Linked DNA regions of Homo sapiens: region 2 is linked to region 1. Evidence: fine-mapped expression QTL. A gene starts in region 1. The other region holds a variant in brackets. All regions are shown on one strand. Distances are between the middles of the regions.

What was found.
Region 2: its variant is fine-mapped to the expression of ADCY5 in esophagus muscle (GTEx, PIP 0.97).

The regions. Positions count from the first base shown.
Region 1 is chr3:123,443,893-123,454,560 of GRCh38, forward strand. It overlaps ADCY5 (adenylate cyclase 5), which reads right to left and starts at 5,198. Exons shown (of 21, transcript NM_183357.3): 1 at 3,520-5,198. The coding sequence starts at 4,653. RefSeq lists an enhancer at 3,360-4,259.
Region 2 is chr3:123,144,355-123,155,022 of GRCh38, forward strand. PDIA5 (protein disulfide isomerase family A member 5) reads left to right here. Exons shown (of 17, transcript NM_006810.4): 12 at 1,168-1,238; 13 at 1,745-1,905; 14 at 5,880-6,010; 15 at 10,617-10,668. Among named protein-coding and RNA genes, the nearest start is that of MIR7110, 12 kb to the right of the region's middle. RefSeq lists an enhancer at 9,774-10,274. The variant G/A (reference allele first, on the strand shown) is at 4,619.

The DNA.
Region 1 (10,668 bases):
CATCATCACCTAGAGTCCAGACCATAGAGCTGCTGCTAATCTCCTGGAGTGCAAATGACCACCCCACCCCACAGGGCACAACGATACCTTCTCCAAAATAATCGTTAATAGCTAAGCATATGTAATAGTTGTGTGAGCATGCTTGTTTTTGTGTGAGTGCGTGCAGAAGCTTTATGTAGCAGAGTGGGATACAGTCAAACAAAAATGAGGTTGCCATGGCAACAGGCTCCAGCATCATTGCAGCCTATTAACACAAGTGAGGAATGTGTTTGGCAGATGCTCCAGTGTTATTTATGGTATGGGTGTAGCAGAGGGACTTCTAACAGGCAAAGGAGGAGAAAAAAACAACCCCGTGACGCTCCTACTATACCCCAGCGAGGAGACAGGAGTCGACAGTGAGACAAGAGCACAGCAGAGGCTGAGAGGCCTCGAACAGGGAGGGAGAGATGGGAAAGCAGAGCCTGCAGGAAGGCAGCAGAGAGGTGAGGTGGGCAGACAGTAACAGGGATCAGAGGGAGAGGGAAGAGAAAGGAAGTCAGAGAGGAAAGGAGCAGGCAGAGAGAGAGAAGGAGCCGAGGGGGAGGGTGACAAACACTATGGACAGAGCCAGAGGGATGGAGAAGGGAAGAAACACCATCCCACCAAGAGGGGCTGTGGCACCTTGTGTCCTGTTCCTCCCTTGAGTCAAAACTGTCAGGAGCCACTGGTTAAGAAACCAAATGCTTCTCCTAATTGGAGCCAAGGGCAGAGCCCCACACATAAGAGAGGCTGAAGAAGAATAAAATACACAGGTCAGATAATGATGTTGAGGACCTGAGTAAAGGGGGAGAGGTCCAGCCTTGCAAGAGGAGCAGTGAAGAAATGCCAGTCCAGTTTACTGAGGGCCTACTATGTGTCCAAGCCACCGAAGGGGGAATTCCCAAAGCCCCAACATAGGAACTGCTCATTGCCACCCATTTCCCTGGACATGTGTCTCAACAAAGAAAAGAACAAGGCATCTAATCCCAACCACTCTTACATGCCTGCTGTTCTGGAGTAACCTGAGGCAGAGGTTAATGCTGGACTTCCCCCACCAGCCAGCAGGGTTTGCTCAAGAAAGACAAATTTTATATGAGGCATAATCAAAAGGGTAAATCAAGTACAAACAAAAAAAGATACAGTTTTCTCTGAAGCCAAATAGAGGAAATGTTTGCATTCCCTTGTCTTGAACCACTCATAACAAGCTCTGCACCACTCAGGGAAGATCATATAAAGTAAGTGTAAATCCACCCAAAATCCTACAGCCTTGCAAAAGTCTAAAGACCACAGTGGGTAAAAGAACAGGGTAGGAGCCAGTGGGGGTGGGGAGAGAAGGGAGAGGGATTTGCCTAAGGAACCAGAAGGAGAAGTCAGTCAGACAGACACTCTGTTGCTGCAATGGTATTTTCATGCTAAGGTGGAATTGGGGCCCCCCCCAAGGCTCAGCACCCCTTTCCTGGGATCTGACTCCAACCCCCCTCAGGAGAAACCATACCTACAGCTGTAATCAGACCCTGTGTCCCAAGTCTGGTTCACAAAATACCCTGAACTATCCTGAAAATCTCCATATGGATGACATGCCCCTTCCTCTGCAGAAAAGCTACATCCACCCAAATCAGGAGCAGTCCCCAAAGATACAACAACCATCTGAAAGCACGAGTCCTCGGGTCAAAAGAGTTGGGGCTTTTATAAGCACTAACAATGGTAGTAACTTTTAAACCACCACCTCTCAAAAGTCTTCTGCAAAGCTGGTCTCTAAAGATTTTTTTTTTCTTCTCATCTCAGATCTGAAAAAACTTTTAACTTAGCATCAACAGCCCCACTTACTCCATTCACTGGACCCCAACTATATTGGCAAGCAGTTATTAAATCCCTACTAAGTATTCTGCACTGTGCTTAGGTAAGGGTGAGAGAATAGAGGAGGAAAAACACATACACCTTGGGATTTGTGCATCCATGGAGGTTACACTGGACAGACAGCAAAACAAGTGGACACTGGAAAATGAATAAGTGCTCCACTCTGTGCCTCTGACTCTATTGTTAATCATACAGAAGACCACGAGGTCAGTGTGGCTGGAATGGAAGAAGAAGGTTCCTTGCAGGGGTACAGCTTGGGGCAGAGGACGTTAGAAGTGGAAGGGACATAAACATTCCTCTCATTCTCTAGAAAAGGTAGCAAAGGCCCAGAGAGCTTGTGTGTCCCCTCCGTCCCAGTCACAGAGCACCCTGCAGGTTCAGCTAGAGCCCAGAGCCCTGAAACCCATAACAGTGCTATTCTCTATGGAAGAATACTATGTCCAGGAAGCCAGGGGACACAGGAGAGCAACTCAAGAAAGATGCGGTACTCAAGAGGATAAAAGTCTAAGAGAAGGCACTAGAAGAGGGGAGACAGAGGAAGGCAATGACAATGGAAAACCCTTAAGAGGTTCTATTCGAGAAGGCAGACACCAGTGGGCAGATGTGTGCACTGGGGTCCAAGGTGAAGAGACTTGCCTGTAGCAAGGGCCCAGTGGACTCTCACAGTGGAGCAGCATGCAAACAAGCAGGTTCAGAAGCAATCATGGATGAGGACCAGGAAACCAGACCACAGGACACTAAAGGGAGATATGGTATGGATGGCAGGGGGGCTCCTCTCACCCTGAGGTCAGGATAGCCAACATGCCCCTCTCACAGAAGCCTTTAAGAGAGTCACCAGCTAACCAGGCAAAAGTTGTATTTCTTCCTGAACCTGCAGTTCTAGACTCACCCAACAAATCCCAGCAGGGATAAAATGTCCCTACCACAAGCAATGACCAGGGGCACCCACTTGAAGGGGTCATGATGTTCAACAACAGCTTTCTGCTCAGGCCGGAAGGGGAATTGCCACCACACACATCTCGGAGGCTCCTTCCCACTTTAGCGAAGGGCAGGTTTTTGGCTTGGGGCGCTCTGCTAACTGAAACAAACTTGTCAGTCCTTCTGCAAGTTCAGGGATATCTCCAGCTACCAAATCCCCAGCCTTAGACAGGTGGCAGGCTCATGCTACCTCCTCCTTACCACTGAGCAAGGGGTGCAGGGTGTCCCCTCACCAACCCTCTATCCAGGGCTGGATTAACAAAGCAGCAGTGGCACTCACGAGGGGGTGGCTGCTAGAGGGTCCAGCCACTTTCGTTAGGGGCCTTTTGTATATAGGAACAGAAGCTCAGGAAGAGATGGGAAACACTCCTTATAATTTTCTCCTCCAACCTTCCTCACTGCATTCCCACAGTGATGGCTACAGTTCAGTACACGTTATCTAAGGGGCAAGGAACACTGCAAACGACACAAGGGCACTCTTTTTGTAAATGAAGCCGCTGGGGCTCAGAGTGGGGTAAGAAGCTCCCAAATAGCCTACATGGCCGAGCCCTGTCTCTCTGGCTCTTTTCACCATTCGAAAGGGTGAGGGTGGGATCCCTTTCTTTGGAGTCCAGCTGAGGCCTGCCCGCCCCGCAATCCAGTCCCGGTGGCCAGGTCGGCCCCTACCTGCTTCAGCAGGAACTGGTCCTGGGCGTTGGTGCGCAGGGCGATGGCCAGGTGGAGGGCGGACAGGAGCACCCCGCTGAGCACTGCGGCCCGCATGCGCACGGGCAGCAGCGTGTAGATGGTGTAGATGAAGAACACGGTCCACCAGATGCCCTCAGAGGCGCTGCGTGGCTGCGGCAGCAGCAGGCCCACCACCTGGACGGCCAGCACCACGGCGATGAGCGCATAGCAGGCCAGGCCCATGTGGTCCTGGTGGAAGGCGGCGCGGTTGCAAAGCACAGCCATGATGAGGATCACGCCGACGGCGGCCGCCAGCACGGCCAGGTAGGGCAGCTGGAGCGGGGGCCGCGCCGCGTGGAAGGCCAACATGACCAGGCACACGAGCACCAGCACGGCCATGAGCATGGTGAGGCTGCTCTGGTTCAGGCGGAAGAAGTAGCGCTGGTACAGCCGCTCCAGTTTGTCCGACGGGAACTTCTTGGAGCGGAATATCTGCAGCAACGCCAGGCAGCAGGCGCCCAGGGACAGCACCGCGCCGGGCCCCGCGCCCGAGCCCGAGTCCGCCGAGCTGCCGCCATCCCCGGACCCCTCGCCGCCCTCGACGGCGCCGGCCTCCAGCTCGTCGGCCGCGCGCCCCTTGCCCCGCCGCTCCTCCAGACCCACCTCCACCGAGCGAGGGCGCACCTCCGTCCCGCCCGCCGAGGCAGCCGCCGCCGCCGAGCCGCCGCCGCCGCCCGCAGGGGGCGCCCGGGTGCTGCCCCCGCTGGCCGCGCCCCGCCGCTGCCGGCGGCTGCCGCGACCGCAGTCGTCGCCGCCGCGCTCCTGCCAGGCGGACTTGGAGCGGAAGCTGAAGCCGAAGCCCCCGGCCAGGGGGTCGTCACCGCTCAGCGGAGGATCGTCGTCGTCGTCGCTGCGCCAGCGGCTGGCCAGGCGCTGCTGCTGCTGCGGGGTCACCGCCCCCCCGGGTTTCTTGGTGGAGCCGCGGGCAGAGCCCCCGGGGGCATGGGGGTAGCCATTCGCGCGGGAATCGGCCTCGCCCCACGCAGAGCGGTGTTCGGGGCCTCCCCGGGGCGCCGGCGCCGCAGTCTTCTGCGCCGCGTAGCCCGGGGGGCTCACGCTTTTGGAGCCGGACATCCCCCCCTCGGCCTCGTCGTCTCCTTCCTCCTCCCCCGGAAGCCGGGCCGGGGGTCTCCAAGGGGAGGGCGGACGGCCGAGCAGGGGGACCAGGCTAGGGTCACACGTCGGGGGCGGCCCGGGGCCCTGCGCTGCAGCGGGGCATCTTGGCACCCCCGTCCTGAGCGGAGGAGGAGGGCACAGCCCCGAGGTGAGAAGTAGCTGAGGATCCGCGTCAGAAGTCCCAGGTCCGAAATGGAGTTGCCTCCGAGGTGGGGTCGCAGGGACTGGTCTGGCTGCTGCTGCGCCGCACGCGGAGAGACGTCCGGGATCCTGGCTCGCGTCGAGCTCGACGAGGGCCGGAGTTGCGGACGAGACGGGACGGAGTGGTGTCCTTGCGGGCGGTGCCTCCTCGGGCCGGCAGTGCCCGGGCGCGGCGCTCGCTGATTCCGCCTAAGCGGAGCCCAGCTGCTCTCGGGGCTCGGCGGCGGCGAGGGCGGCTCGGCGGGGGTCCCGGCGAAGAGACACTGCGGGTGCGCTTTCCTCGCAGCGGACTGGGAGCGACTGGGAGGTGCGGGCGCCAGCCAGCATTATTTTCTTACGAGGGGTGGGGAGGTGGGATGGGAGGTGGAGAGGACGGGGGAGGGGGCGACGGGCGGAGCAACAGCTCCGGAGCCCCGGGGGGGAGGGTCCTGGAGCCCGGGGGGGCCGTTGCCCGCATCCCCCACCTCTCGCGGCGAGAGTGGATGCGTGGCCCCGGCGAAAGCCGAGCCGAGCCTTCGGCGCGTCCGCGCAGGGGGCGGGGTCCGGGTCAGGGACCGGCTCCTGCGGTGCGGCCCTTCCCCTCTCGCCTCTCCCTTTCCCGCAAACGGAGCGGGGCCGGCCGGGACCTGCCGGCCCGGAGAGCTGTCGCGCCCGCTTCGCAAGCCCCAAGCTCCTCGTCGCCGGCTGCGGGCCCACCGCGGCCGGCGCGGAACGACTAGGCGGAGGACGGAATCCGGCGCAGCGCTGCCGCGGTTCTGCCCCGACGCAGGCAGGCTTCTCCCGGGGAGTAAGGCATCCAGAGATCCAGCGCCGGGGCTCAGAAGCAGCCGGCCCAGAGGGGCCCGCCTGAGAGCCGCGGCGCCCGAGAGGCGCTCCGGGGGGGCCCGCGGGAGCCCGGCTCAGGGCGCGCCATGCACGCTTCGGGCCCTGCGCCGCTCCGGCCGCTCGCGCCGCTCCTCCCTTCTCGCCCGCTCGCCGCCGCCGGAGAGCCCTCCGCATCCCCTCCTCCCGCTGCCTCCCCGCCCCCCGCGCCGCCCGGGCCTCGGCTCACAGCCGCGCGAGGCCGCCTCCGCCCCCGGCCTGGCCATGGCCCCAGCCTCGGCGCCCCGCGGGCATCCTCAGGCCTGGCCGCGGGCACCCCAGTTCCCCTTCCTCACCTAAAATTCTCGCTGCGCCCCTCCCTCCCTGGGACTAGGAGCCGCATCCAGCCTGCGGTCCCGTCACCAGACCTGGGTGGAGCGCGGTCTTCCCCCGCCCCCGGCCAGGGCTCCAGCGCCCCCAGTCCTAGCTCCCCTCTTTTGTATCCCCCTTTAATCCCCCTCCCCCCATTTAACCCAACTTCAGCCCCGGCGCTGCGCCCCCCTTCCCTGGCCCGGCTCGATTGGCCGCTTCCGGAGCTGTCAGACTACAGTCCGGCGCTCTTATTGGGCGATTCTCTGGCCCGGCGGCTGTGCCAAAGGAGGGCGCACCGGGTGGGGGGCGCCTGGGCAGCGAGTGCCTCAAGGAGAAGGAGAACAGAGTCCCTGGAGGGGTCTCAGGGGCCGGAGAGCCAGACCCGGAAATGGACAGGGGAGATGCAGAAACAGGACTTCTGAGACGCAGGAAGACAGTGATGGAAAAGATGGTGATGCAGTGGGTGAGGCCGATGCAGCCGGGGCGGGGCGGACAGGGAGGCTTTGGTGGGTAGTTACCAGGAGAAAGCCCCACAGTGAACACTGGAAACACCTGGCTTTTATAAAGCGCTCTTTGCCTGTTCGTAAAGTCTCATAAATCTCACTTGGTTCCCGTCAGTAATCCTAGGATGAGACAGAGGACAGAGACCGTGTAGCTATTCCCAGCTTATAGATGCAGAAACTGAGGCTCTGGGAGCTTATTCAACTTGCTATAGGTCACACAGGTCTACTAACTTGGCACCCAAAGGTCCTTCGTCAGCGCCAGACTGCCTCCCTAACCTAACAAGGTGTTAGCAGGAAGGATGGGCACCTGAGCAAGCTGGCGTGCCCACTTGGGGGGAAGCAGGGGAAGGGGAAAATGGCTAGATACACAGCACCAGCCACAAGAGGCAGGAATGGAGAGAAGGATTCGACTGCTAGGCAAAAAGGACGTAGGCCTGTAGAATGATGTGTCTACCCAATTCCCTTTGCCCCCAAGCTGTCCTGCTGGAGTTCTGACAGTCTAAACCCTGGAGAGGTGGGAGACCACACTCCTACCCAGCCTGGGGGTAAACAGCTTTTACTTTCCCCTTCTTCATCCTCCAACTCTCTCCCCAGAGCTTCTGACAGGGAGCCTAGAGGTCTAAGTGAGCTTCCTTCTTTGTCTCTCTCTGCTGGTCATCTCTGCAGACTGGAAGATAAACCTTGCCAGAGTTACAAATTGGGAGGAGAAAAATTCCAAGAGGTCAGAATAAACTAACCCTTGGGTAATCCAGCCTTTGAGTATTCCACTATTAGCCAAGTTGTAAAAAAAAACATGAATTTAGTCAATAAAAATTCTAGAGAACCCTCAATGTACAAAGCATTGTGCTAGTTGCTACCAGGATAGAGAGATGACCAAACTCTAGACCGGGAACAAGTCGAACAAGTCAGTGACGGAGAAGAGCTAGCCACTATCTCTAGGTCAGAGCAAAGTTCTGGGTTCAATAGAAGTGCAAACAGCACCTCGGGCATTCAGAGAGAGGGGGTGTCACTTCCCACTGTGAGGGCCAAACAAGGGCCTGGAAGTCAAACCTGGGTCTAGCAGGGAAGGATGTCTAAGAAAGGGAGGATGGACTAATTAATATTTACTAAGCAACTGTTGTATGTCTGTAAACATTTTATTGTCAGATAACTATTCTGAGGAAGGTTATCCCCACTATAAAGATGAGAAAACAGACTTAGGGAATCAAAAAGTTTGTCCAGCCAGGCATGGTGGCTCATGCCTGTAACCCCAGCACTTTGGGAGGCTGAGGCAGGCAGATCATCTGAGGTCTGGCGCTCATGACCAGCCTGGCCAACATGGTGAAACCCGTCTCTACTAAAAATACAAAAATTAGCCGGGCGTGGCGGTGTGAGCCTGTAATCCTACTCTGGAGGCTGAGGCAGGAGAATCACTTGAATCCGGGAGGTGGAGGTTGCAGTGAGCCGAGATCATGCCATTGCACTCCAGCCTGGTTGACAGAATGAGACTCTGTCTCAAAAAAAAAATAAAAAATAAAAAGGCCGGGCATGGTGGCTCACGACTCTAATCCTAGCACTTTGGGAGGCCAAGGCAGGCGGATCACGAGGTCAAGAGATCGAAACCATCCTGGCCAACGTGGTGAAACCCTGTCTCTACTAAAAATACAAAAATTAGCTAGGCGTGGTGGTGTGTGCCTGTAGTCCCAGCTACTTGGGAGGCTGAGGCAGGAGAATTGCTTGAACCCAGAAGGTGGAAGTTGCAGTGAGCCAAGGTTGCACCACTGCACTCCAGCCTGGCAACACAGCAATACTCTGTCTCAAAAAAAATAAAATAAAATTATTTATATATATATATATATATATATATGAGTTTGCCCAAAGCTCATAGTTGTAGCAGTCTGCTCGTTGTATTCTACCATGCAGCAATGTAGCAGATATGACATGGGTGGCACCCTCAAGACATAGTCAACTGCACGGACAGGGGCCACAGGGCCAGAGGTATCAAGGCTATTGATCAAGGTTCCATCCTTGATCCTCTCATCTTCTCATTCCCAGAGCTATCCCTAAGTCATTCCTCTTAATTTTATTCAATTTTTAAAAATAATTGTCTTACAACAAAAGCCATGTATGATTGATGTGGGAAAAAAATTAAAAAGAAAGAAAACACACTCATAATCATATCACCAAAGAACCAGTATTGGCCGGGCGCGGTGGCTCACGCCTATAATCCCAGTACTTTGGGAGGCTGAGGAGGGCGGATCATGAGATCAGGAGTTCGAGACCAGCCTGGCCAACATGGTGAAACCCCATCTCTACTAAAAATACAAAAATTAGGCAGGCGTGGTCATGGGCACCTGTAATCCCAGCTACTCGGGAGGCTGAGGCAGGAGAATCACTTGAACCCGGGAGGTGGAGGTTGCAGTGAGCCGAGACTGCACCATTGCACTCCAGCCTGGGTGAAAGAGCAAGACTCCATCTCAAAAAAAAAAAACCAGTATTAATATGTTAATTTTTTTCTTAAACAATAACTGGATCTTTTACTCTACAATTAGTTTTAGAGTCTACCATTTTCTACTTAGCAAAATATTGTGGATTTTTTTTCATGTCAATAAGCATCCATCTACAATATCCATTTTACTGTCCAAATTGCATGGGTATAGTATACTTTATTTAACCAATCCCCTACTGTTAGGCATTTTTCACTGTCATAGCAGTTTATAAATAAAAGTTTCCCCTCCTTTACTATTATAAACAGTGAGCATTTCTGTAGATAAATTTTCACACAAGCTGGGCACAGTGGCTCACATTGGTAATCTCAGCTACTCAGGAGGCTGAGGTGAGATGATCTCTTGAGCCCAGGAGTTCGAGGCCAGCCTAGGCAACATAGAGAGAATGCTGTCTCAAAAATAAATAAATGAATAAAAATTTACACATATCCTTAGGAAAAATTCCTACAAATAGAATTGCTGGGCCCAAGGATAAGCATGTTTTTTTCTCTAAGATATTTTTGAAATCTGTATCTTCAGCCCTTGCCTCCCTTCCCAGTTCCAAGCTTCCCTCTGGCTACTGGAGAGCTCCCCATCGATGCTCCTTGGGACTCACCAGATCCCAAATTCACTGTTTCTGAAAATAAGGTCATCTCCCAAGTAGCTTGCTCCTCACTCCCTTTTCATGCTGCTGGTGGAATTACCTTCGTCCAAACTCTGTGATCTTAAGAGTGATAATATCTCCTCTGCCTTGTCTTTTCGCATTTGTCTCTTCTTCCACATTCTCTTACCACAGCCTTCATCCCGATCATCCCCTTCCTTGCCTGGATAATTGCCAACTCTCCCTCCTTGCCCTCAAATCTGTCCTCCGCCTTGTCCTCATCTGATCTCACTCCCACTGAAATCATGTCCACAAAACAGCCTGTTCCTACCTGCCAGCTTTCACTGTGAGTTCACCACCTTCCTGTCACCCAGCCCCCATGAACTGCTCTTGTGCCTCTGCAGAGATAACCCTTTTTCCTCCACAAATCAAACTCAGCACCTGAGGGAAGCCCTCCCTAATACCCCTCCCCTCCCTCCACCCCTCCCCCATGCCAATAGGCACTCCCTCCTCCTCCTCTGCCCCCAGCACACCTTGCTTATATCTATTATAGCACCTGTCACATTGTATTATCTTGACTTGTTTACGGAACGGTCTCCACAGTCTGCTGAATGCCTTGAGGGTAGAGTTGGGATCTTATTCCATGCCCAGTGTTTAGCCTGGTGCCTGGCACATAGGAGGTGCCCAATAGTTGCTGGATAAACACATGGCACATCTGGGGAATGGTAAGCAAGATGGAGTCTCAGGTATATGTAGGGGAGGAGGACTTTCGACAGTGGGTGAAGATGGACAGGTGAGTTGAACTCTGGAACATAGTGCCGAGGAGGTTGGGCTTCAGTTTAAAAACAATAAGGAGCCCCCAAATTTAGGGACAAAAGTGTCCTGGTTCATTCTGTTTTAAGAGGCAAACTGGTGATAATGTTACTACATTCAAGAAACAAGATCCCTGTAATCCCCGCACCTTGGGAGGCCAGCGCAGGAGGATCGCTTGAGGCCAGGAATTCAAGACCAGCCTCGGCACCATAGCTGA
Region 2 (10,668 bases), 300 kb before region 1:
GCATGGTCCCCGCACAGCCAGGCTTACCTTCTGAGCAGCCTCCATCCTGAGCCAGTCTGCAGACCCCTCACCTCCCAGTCCCTCCAGCATCAGAGGCCAGAAAGTACTCTTTCTATTAAAATGAAAACAATGTACAAATGTCAAGGTCTGTCATTTACACAAAGTGCTTAATTTCTTTTTAATGCATCAAATTTTATTATTTCTGACATCTTACTGTGTTCATGCAGCTGTAAGAAAAGCACAGAGCAGGCTGGGCGCGGTGGCTCACGCCTGTAATCCCAGCACTTTGGGAGGCCGAGGTGGGTGGATCACGAGGTCAGGAGATCGAGACCATCCTGGCTAACACAGTGAAACCCCATCTCTATTGAAAAAGTACAAAAAAAATTAGCCGGGCGTGGTGGCGGGTGCCTGTAGTCCCAGCTACGTGGGAGGCTGAAGCAGGAGAATGGCATGAACCCAGGAGGCGGAGCTTGCGGTAAGCAGAGATGGCGCCACTGCACTCCAGCCTGGGAGACAGAGCAAGACTCTATCTCAAAACAAAAAAAAAAGAAAGAAAAGGACAGAGCAGTTTCTATCCCAAAAAATTCCCATCATGTCATATGGGGACAATTAGAATGTAATTATGTCCCATACTTATGCTTCTGTGAATTTTTGTGCCCAGCTCAAGGCCTCAGACTGCCTTCTGTCCAGAGAAGATGATGATGGTGATCACAGCATGGTGCCACAACCTACACGCTGCCTGCAGCTAGGGCCTCTCACCAGATGGTTGGGTTTTCAACCCAGCTCTGTGACCATGGCTGTGTATATGGCCTTGGGCAGTCACCTGCCCTCTTGGTGCCTCAATTGTCTAATCCATAGAATGGAGATAATGTCAGTTCCTACTTTGTGGGGTAGTTATGAGGCTGTAAGGCACTGGTCAGTACCTGGCACACCAGTTGCCCGTATTATTTATGCAGTTGTTTTATTTTTGTGTCTGGGGTACCTTCCCACTACCCCAACCCACTTCTGGTGGATTATGCAAAATATTTCTTTTCTTTGAGCTGGTGCTGCTGCTGCTTTTCTCAGGTGTCTGGGAATGGGACTGAGCTGCCTTACAGAGGCGGCGCAGGGGAGCATCCCGAGGGCCTCTGTGCCATAAGAATGGTTTCTCTTGATCTCTCCCCACAGGGTGTGGCCACTGTAAGAAAATGAAGCCGGAGTTTGAGAAGGCAGCAGAAGCCCTCCATGGAGAAGCGGATGTAAGCTTCCTTTCCTTCCCCCTCACCGTTCTCTTTGAAAGAATCACTGACAGGTGGAATCATTATGACTTTCCCCTGCAAGCCCTGCTGCAGCTCCCGTGGTCCGTGGAGGCCAGCAGTACCTCTGTGTGCCCAAGTAGAACATCTTAGACAGATGGGATCCTAGAGGGGGCAGAAAGACTACTGGCCCATGTTCCCGTGCCCATCCAGGTGACCTCTGCCTGCTCCCTCTTTTCTCTGGGACCCTGGCTAACAGGAACAGGTGCCAATCTACTCAACGTGGCTGGTGGGGCAGATTCAAAAGCCTCATCTCAGCTCATAAATGAGAAATGATGGCCGTGCCAATGTTCAGTTGTTCCCTGGGATATGGGAGCCCACTGGGCTAGCCACCCCAGTTAAATTCCAGCAGGTCCAGGATGGGTTGTGGGGGCAGCGTCTGGGCTCCTGTGTTCCACCAGCACCGCATCTGAGGCTGTAATGCATGGTTGGCCTTTCCCCCATCCCAGAGCTCTGGTGTCCTTGCAGCTGTCGATGCCACTGTCAACAAGGCCCTGGCAGAAAGATTCCACATCTCAGAGTTTCCTACGTTGAAGTATTTTAAGAATGGAGAGAAATACGCAGTGCCTGTGCTCAGGACAAAGAAGAAGTTTCTCGAGTGGATGCAAAAGTAAGTGTTACGATCTCAGTAGCACATCCTAACTGCCAGCTGGCGGCCCCTGGAGACCACCTTGAGGAGGTGAAGTAAACTTTATGGTCAATGTCCTGGGCTCATGCCCGTAGGAGTCAAGACGGATCTGACTTCCTCAACCCTAAAACCACCGTTCATATGCTGATCACGTGTCTTGATCAGGTCACTGCTGGCAGTCCTTCTGGACGCAGCTTCATCGACGCACTAAACCGTGTGTTGCTTTTTCTCTGTCTCAGCCTCCTTAGGCCCAGATCTTATTGTCTGCATTTTATTCCACTCCCTTTGAATAAATGAAGGAGACACAGCTCTTCATAGCCAGAGCTAGACTCATTTCGTCCAGGTTTGCTAGTGGTTGGCTGGGCCTCCAGTAATGTCCACAGGGCAGGCTATGGTGGTTTGCAACTGAGGATAAAGATTTTGAAGAGCCCCCTCAGCCTATGTATTAGTTTGCTAGTGTTGCCATAACCAAGTAACAGACCAGGTGGCTCAACAATATAATATAACAATATAACAGAAGTTTATTTTCTTACAATTTTGTTTTGTTTTGTTTTGTTTTGAGACAGTCTCACTTAGTCACCCAGGCTGGAGGCATGATCTCGGCTCACTGCAACCTCCACCTCCCAGGTTCAAGCGATTCTCCTGCCTCAGCCTCCCAGGTAGCTGGGATTACAGGCACATGCCACCATGCCTGGCTAATTTTTTGTATTTTTAGTAGAGACGGGGTTTCACCATGTTGCCCAGGCTGGTCTCGAACTCCTGAGCTCAAGTGATCCACCCGCCTCAGCCTCCCAAAGTGCTAGGATTACAGGCGTGAACCACCATGTGCAGCCTATTTTCTTACAATTTTGGAGGCTAGAAGTCAGAGATCAAGATGTTGGCAGGGTTGGTTTCTTCTGAGGCCCCTCCCCTTGGCCATCTTCTGCCTGTGACTTCCCATGGCCACCCCTCTATATGTATCTGTGACCTAATCTGCTCTTCTTATAAGGACACCAGTCATGTTGGATGAGAGCCCACCCTAATGACCTCATCTTAACTGAATTATCCCTTTAAAGGGATAATTTATCTCTAGATATAGTCACATTCTGAGATAATGGGGGTTAGGACATCAACATATGAATTAGAGGGGGACACAGTTGAACCTATACGGTCTGAGCTACTTTGTTAGGACATCAGTCAGATATGAGGTGTTTATTTAAAGCATAGACTCTGAGACTCTTTTATTCAGGAAGTGTGAATGGGACCCTCAGCCATGGTGTTCTAAGCAACACCAGCTTGTGGAATGGCAGCAAAGTTGCCACTAGATTCAGGGGAGGCCTCTGGCAAGAGATGAATGGACTGATGAGATCCTGGCCTCAGCTTCTCCCACTTTGTCCTGCTCATCCACTGGGAGGATTTGGAAAGTAGCTAGGCCTTTGTCTTAGGGACCAGAGGAAAATGATGGTTTGCCTCTGAAAGGCACAAGGTGCTTGCTTACCCCTCAAGGCCTTCTGGTGTCTGAAGTAAGTGGCTTGTTCACACCCACTTTTCCAGCCTTGCTCTGGTGCCAGGGCTGGTTCACTGGAAAGGACTGGGTGGGGCGGGGGATCTGGCCAGGTCCCTGTGATGCTTGGACTTCTGGTTAGAGAGCCGAGGGAATCCAGAGTGTCGATCATCACTAATCAGTGCTCCAGAGTCTTGGCCACAAACAGCGAGCATGAGGGGCCTCTGTCCTTTCTGTGTGCCACTGCTGCTACTGAGAGCCTGAAAAGCACTCAGGCTAAGTGCTTTCAGGTTTAAATACTTTCTTAAGTGCTTTTAGGTCAAGAGCATGGGCTTTGGAGTCTGAGAGACCTGGGCTGAGATCGTGACCCTGAGCCATTTCTTTGATGCCTCTAAGCCCCAGTTTCCTATCTGTAAGATGGAGACAGTAATTTCCCCATAGACTTGTCTAGGGAATTAAATGAGACTCCTGTGAAAAGTGCTCAGCACAGGACATGATGTGGAAGTACTCAAAAAAGTTGAAACTGGCCGGGCACGGTGGCTCATGGCTGTAATCCTAGCACTTTGGGAAGTAGAGGCAGGAGGATCTCTTGAGTTCAGGAGTTCAAGACCAGCCTGGGCAACATAGTGAGACCCCACCTCTACCGAAAATCAAAAAAATTACCTGGGCATGGTGGTGTGCGCCTATAGTCCCAGCACTTTGGGAATCTGAGGTGGGAGGATTGCTTGAAGCCGGGAGGTTGAGGCTACAGTGAGCTGGGATGGTGCCATTGTACTCCAGCCTCAGCAACAGAGTGAGACCCTGTCTTAAAAAAAAAAAAAAGGTTGAAGCTATTTTTATGACTGATTGTGGACTTCTCATGACTGACAGTATCAATACATAAGTGATCACAGCAGCCAGCCTTTGCAGAATGCTCTCCTATCTCTTGCTCCATTTCATCCTCAAGTCCTGCTGAGGCCAGAGTTTTTAATTCCTATTTCATTGGTGAAGAAACTTAGGTTCAGAGAGGTTAAGGGCCCTATCCAGGGACAAATAGTAGTTCTTCCGGGAACTTGGAGGGGATCCTTCAGGTGGAGTGTGAACAGCCGATGGCTCGGGGGTGGAGAACTGAGACTCGTCACCCAGAAGCAGGGCGAGCAGACAGCGCCAGAAAAGGTGGATGGCATTTACAGGCAGGTGCATAGGCTGCCAGGCTGTGGGTAACTGAGATGC[G/A]CCTGCCAGCAGGCCAGCCTGGGGAGGCAGTGTTCAGGGAAAAGGCAGAGCAGAAAGGTCAGATGAGTGGTGTCAGCCATGGAACCAGAGAAGCTGGAGGACAAAGACAGGGAGGAAGGCTGGGAGGGGCCCGTCTTAGTCACCAGCACAGGAGAAGGTGAGAGGCAGGGAGACTGATTTGGGAGGAGGAGGGAAGAGTAATGTGTTCTAAGTCATGGTGGATTTGAGGTTACAATGGGACTTCCAGCTGGAAATGCCTGAAAAACACCTGGAAATAAGGAGCTTGGATGAGAGGTGAGGCCTTAAGTTCTTCTCAGCCATGGAAATCACTGGAGCCATGCAGAGGAATGAGATCTTTGAGAATTGCAAGGGCTCAGAATAGAACTGGAAGCACAGAGAGGGCTGCACTCAGCTGGTGCAGGGGCTGTGGCACAAGCCCAGTGGGAGACGTGGCAGCGTGGGTGTAGCCCTCTCCCCAGAAATACTCCCAAGAAGGGGAGCTGAGTTATAGAGAGGGAAGCAGGGGAGCAAAAGCTATTGCAAGACCCTGGAGATCCATCCTTGCATGAGGCAGAGTGGAGGGACCCAGTGGACAGCAAGAGACTGAGAAGCAATAACATTTATCCAATGCCTGGCATTTATTAGAGCATCTAGGCTCTCAGTAAATATTAGTTCCTTGACTGAGTAGATGCTTTTCATACATTCTCTGCTCTTCATAAAGATCCCATTGTCCTCATTTAACAGAAAAGAAAACGGAGGCTCAGAGGGGTTTAGTAACTTACCTAAGGTTGCACAGCTGGTAAGTCATCTGGACTTGAACCCAGGCCCGCCTCACTCCTTGGCCCATGCTCTCCACCAGAACAGAAGCTGAGAACCAGAAGATAATGAACGATCATGTAGGGTCCTAGAGGGGGCAGAAAGGAGGGGCCTGGGAGTCCAAGCAGAGGTGCCTCTATGCTCTTGTCAAGGAGTTCGTGGCCCACAACTGGGGGGGCTGCCCTGACCTGAAATGGTGTCAAGTCTTCCATATTTTACAAAATGGCTCCTTAATGGGCTCCTCAGAGGGAATCAGGGAAGGTCTTTGCTGGTGGCACAGATTTGTTTGTGTTTAAACTGTGGTTTTAAAATGAAATTTTAGAAGGATTGTAGTGGTTTCTTCATGCATGTTCCCCCGAGTGGTTGGGACATTGAGGGTGGATTTCCTTGCCCATCTAAAAATCTCTCCTTATGGCTGCCTCCCCACTCCCCTGGCTTCTTGCAGCCCTGAGGCCCCCCCGCCCCCAGAGCCCACGTGGGAAGAGCAGCAGACAAGCGTGTTGCACCTGGTGGGGGACAACTTCCGGGAGACCCTGAAGAAGAAGAAACACACCTTGGTCATGTTCTACGCCCCTTGTAAGTAGCTTGGGTGCTCACTGAGTGGCACAGTAAGAGGGGTTTGGCCCCACCAAACCAAAAAGACCCGCACACCCACCCCAGGGACCAAGGCAGCCGCTGATGGATCCCAGGGTCATCTCCATTATGAACCAGGCTCTCCAATTTTATTCCAGGCTAAGAGGTCCTTCAAATCCAGGGCCTCCTTTTGTCAGACTCGTCGGGCTCTCCTTCCTTTGGGGCAGCCTTTCTCGTGTCTGTCCTAAAGCCCTCTGCCTCTGTGCTCGTCCCCTCTTGTCCCTGGGCTCCTCCATGCCCCTGTCCCCTACCTGCACACTTCCCACCCCTCAGCTGTCCCCGCCCCCTCTTCCTTCTCCAGACACTGACTTATCTTCAGCACCTTGGAACCCCCTCTCCCTGCCCTTCCAGATGGCTCTGGAGCCGTGGCATAGGCACAGCCACATTCGCTCCTGAGCTCCTGTGCTGTGCTCGTTTTAATCAGAGCTCAAGCTGAGGAAGTGACACGTCTGCCGACATTGGCATCGGTGACCTCAGGTTTCTGTGTATTCCCATTTTGAAGTTGTTAATTGATACTTACAATGAAAGGTTCTTAGAATTTCCCACTCTCTGCTGCCCTTCTCTCTCTCCCCCAGGTTACAGCTCAGCTTAATGGAGTGAGGATAATAAAAGCTGCAGTCTACAGAGAAGCCAGGCAGCTCCATCTAGCCATAAACCTGCTCAGTTGTAGCTGGCCCTCCTGTTGGCTCCCCCGTCCCCACCTTTCAAGTGTCAGTAATCCGTGGAGTCTGTGTGTTCTCAGGGTCTGAGAGGGGCCGCCACAGCCTCAGCCCCTCCTTGAGGCAGCCTCCCTGCCCATCTCTTTCTGCCTTTCCTTCTCAGAGTGGGACTTGTCCTCTCCCAGTCCCTTACAGAGCTTCCGGCTGTCCTCTTCGGTCTGTAGAGTGTGCCCAGAAGCCTGAAAATTTTCGGGAGCTGACATCTTCCCTCTGGCATTAGGGGGTGGAGGACTGAGCCTTGCCCAAGGCCATGGGGCAAGTTAGTGGCAGGCCCCTCCCGCAGCCTGGATGGCTCTCTCTATGTCACAGGCACAGTCCAGAGAGTGAGAGTGTTTTCAGCAGCAAGTGAGAACCTGGCTGCAGGAGTGGAAGCCCTTGACCAGACGAAATACTTTCCCCCAGACCTCTGGACCAGAGCCCAGTGCTTCCTCTGCCTCTCTTCAGCTCCTCCCTGACTGAGGGGCCTTCATAGCAGACATAAGCCCCCCGCCACCCTGACCCTGGCTGCTGGGACCGACAGGTGCTTGAATCCCCAGGGAATCTGGGAGAGACTCTTACCCTTTTGGGCTGCCAAAGATCTACAACTCCTTCCTTCCTGCCTGCCTGCCTGCCTGCCTGCCTGCCTGCCTGCCTGCCTGCCTGGCCTGCCTTCCTGCCTGCCTGCCTTCCTGCCTGCCTGCCTGCCTGCCTTCCTGCCTGCCTGCCTTCCTTCCTGCCCTCCTTCCTTCCTGCCCGCCTTCCTGCCTGCCTTCCTTCCTGCCTGCCTTCCTTCCTGCCTTCCTTCCTTCCTGCCTTCCTTCCTGCCTGCCTTCCTTCCTGCCTGCCTTCCTTCCTGCCTTCCTTCCTGCCTTCCTGCCTTCCTTCCTTCCTTCCTTCCTGCCTTCCTTCCTGCCTGCCTTCCTTCCTGCCTGCCTTCCTTCCTGCCTGCCTTTCTTCCTGCCTTCCTTCCTGCCTTCCTGCCTTCCTTCCTTCCTTCCTTCCTTCCTGCCTTCCTTCCTGCCTGCCTTCCTTTCTGCCTTCCAGCCTGCCTGCCTTCCCGCCTGCCTTCCCACCTGTCTTCCACCTACCCATCAAATATCAGCTCTGTGCTGTGCAGTGTCTAGGGCCCAGGGTACAAGGGAGGGAGACATGTCCCTGCCAGGCCTTGAGGGGCTCACTGTCTACCCTGACAAAATTCTAAACACAATCCATCCAGGGCAGGGTCACTGAGTGACTCAACCTCTGGCAGAGGGCTTGGTCCTTAGAGTTTCTTCATTTCTGTTACTGCGTTTTTCTGTCCCTAAACCTTGCCCCAGGGACATACATCTTTATCAGTGGGTTACAGGGGGAAGACTTTCCAAGGACAAAAAAGATACATCTTTTGACTTTTTAATAATGAAAATAATAATACCTATTTTTATATATAAATATGGCATATACTATATACTTTTTATATATGAAGGATCTAAACACTACAGAAATGTCAAATAGTAAAGTCAAATGCCTGATAGAGGTCTAAAGGAAAAGCAGCATACCCACACGTTCCTGCTCCCCTTCTAGCTGCCTCACCCCAACATCTTACCTCCCCTCACATCTCTCCACCTCCCACATCCCTTCTCCCACCATGTCTGCCCCTGCATCCTGTCTCCCCAGCTTCTGCACAGCTCTTCCTCCTGCTGTTTCATTGTTCCTTTTACGCTGAATGGTCTGGTCATGGTGACTGCCCTTCTCAGGCCAGCTTGGCGGAGTCTCTAGAACTGCAATTGTCCAGCCTGTCCTCAGTCTTTGTTCCTCTTTCCCCACTCTGGGAGGCGTCTTTGGTTTTCTGCTACACAGAGGCAGTGCCTTTTTTTTTTTTTTAAGCCTACATTAAATAAAAAAAATCATCCACATCTGGCCCTCCTGACACCTCTTGGAAGCATCTTCATGCACTTTCTGAAACAGCCCTCCCTCCCATTACTCATTGGCCCCACTCTTTCTTTCGGATAATGAGAAAATTAGATGCAACAGAAAGCCATTAATCTGAGGCCTAGATATTTTAAATTGATGGTAACAGGAATTTACACTAGGCTGACAGTTACCTTTAGACTTTCAATGAACAAAGAGGTTAAAAAGGAAAAATTAATAGTGAAACCAGGTTTTGAGGAAGGGGGGTGGTTATTTTCGCCAGCCTAATGCTATTATGGGCATAGGCCACACACAAGGGGCCTGCAGCTGCCTGCAGGAGCTGTCTGTGACATACCTTGTTAACCAGTAGATTGCGCTCTTTAAGTGTTTTGAAAATTTTATAACATCATCCCTTTATAGTGTGACATTTTCATGAATTTGAGCTATTTTTCTTTCTGTTATGTCAAATTAGTGAAGTGTTACTTGTAATTTCCATTTTAGGCTATTAAAAAATCATCCAGTCTCTGCCATGAGCTAGGCTGTGCTAGGCACATTGCTAAGCTGTGCTTGTCTCATTTCTGATATAACCCATCACTGGCCCAGGTCTCTTCTGCTCCTTCTGCATGAGACTTGGCAAAGCCCTCTACACCCCCACCCCCCATCACCCCCCACAATGCTCTGGGCCAGCTGGCCACTCTGCCAGCCAGGCCATGTGGGTGGTCCTGCTCATCTCAAGACTGGCTCAAGGACTAAATTCAGATTAAACTTGTAGCTTAGCCTTAATTTGGTTTCACAAAACCCTTTGAAATGCCAGTCATTATTATCTTATTTTAAAAAGGAGAAAGTAGATGAGCAAAGCCGTTTCTGTTCCCACCGTGGCATCTCTGCCTTCCCGAGGCTGAGGGAGGCTGGCTGACGTAGAGGTGTGGGCTGGAGCCTCCCCTTGCTCAGGGAAACCCTCCCCTCAGAGCCCTTCTGTGCCCTGGACAGTTCTGTTCACCAGTGACTGGGAAAGGGCTGAGAGAGGAGGGGGGTTTGGGTTCTGATCTGTTAGTGCTGAGGGAAGGGCTGGATCAGCCTGCAGCTCCTGGGCTCACCAGGACAGGAGGAGAAAGTGGCCCCCACAGAGGTCCCTACCCTGCTTCTGAGACACTGAGGTCAGAGTTGGGGCTCAGGGTGATGCCCAGAACAAGAGACAGATGCTGGAGGTAGGGGCCCCAGTATAGCTCAAAGGCCTTAGGCTGCTCTGACAAGCCTTCTCCCTGGGACAGGGAGCATCAAGGGACCTGAGGACTGCCTGGTGACTTCCCGTAGCTCCTCTCCCTCTTACCCTGACCATGGCCTTCCTGTTCCTGGCTTTGAGGTTCTGGTTATTGTAGAGCAAAGAGTAGATGGAGACCTGGGGACCAGGGCCTGATTTGGCTGCTCACAGTCTGGGCTGGGTGGAGGTTGCTAGGAATGCAGAAGTTAGCAGCAAATCATGAGCAGTGGGTGCAGAGTAGTTGCCCCAAAATCCCCCCACCCTGCATTTCCCAACGCCACTTCCTCTCAGTCAGGAAATGGAGAGATTTGCTATTGTCCCTGGAGCAAGAGAAGATTGTAGCGGCTCTGAGAATCCCGTGCCTTCCTCTTTAAGCCCAAAGCTCCCTCTGCCCCCAAGATCAGGCTGTTCCTCGTCCTCTGTGGAAGGAGCAGAACTAGACTACAGTGACCATCGCCCCCCAGCCTGGGCAGGAGCATATGATGCTTGTGACAGGGACTCCTACCAGTCCCCCCTACCAATAGATCAGACATGGGTGGGAGGTGGTTAGAGTGGCAAGGTTGACAAAAGGACCCTGACAGTGTGGCGGGCAGTGGGGAGCTCCTGGAGAGCCCTCTCTGGAGCTTTCAGGAAGGGTCCCTGGCCCTGCAGCCTCCCTGCACATGCATCACAGTCCTGTGTGCTCTCTTCCCCTCTCACACAGGGTGCCCACACTGTAAGAAGGTCATTCCGCACTTTACTGCTACTGCTGATGC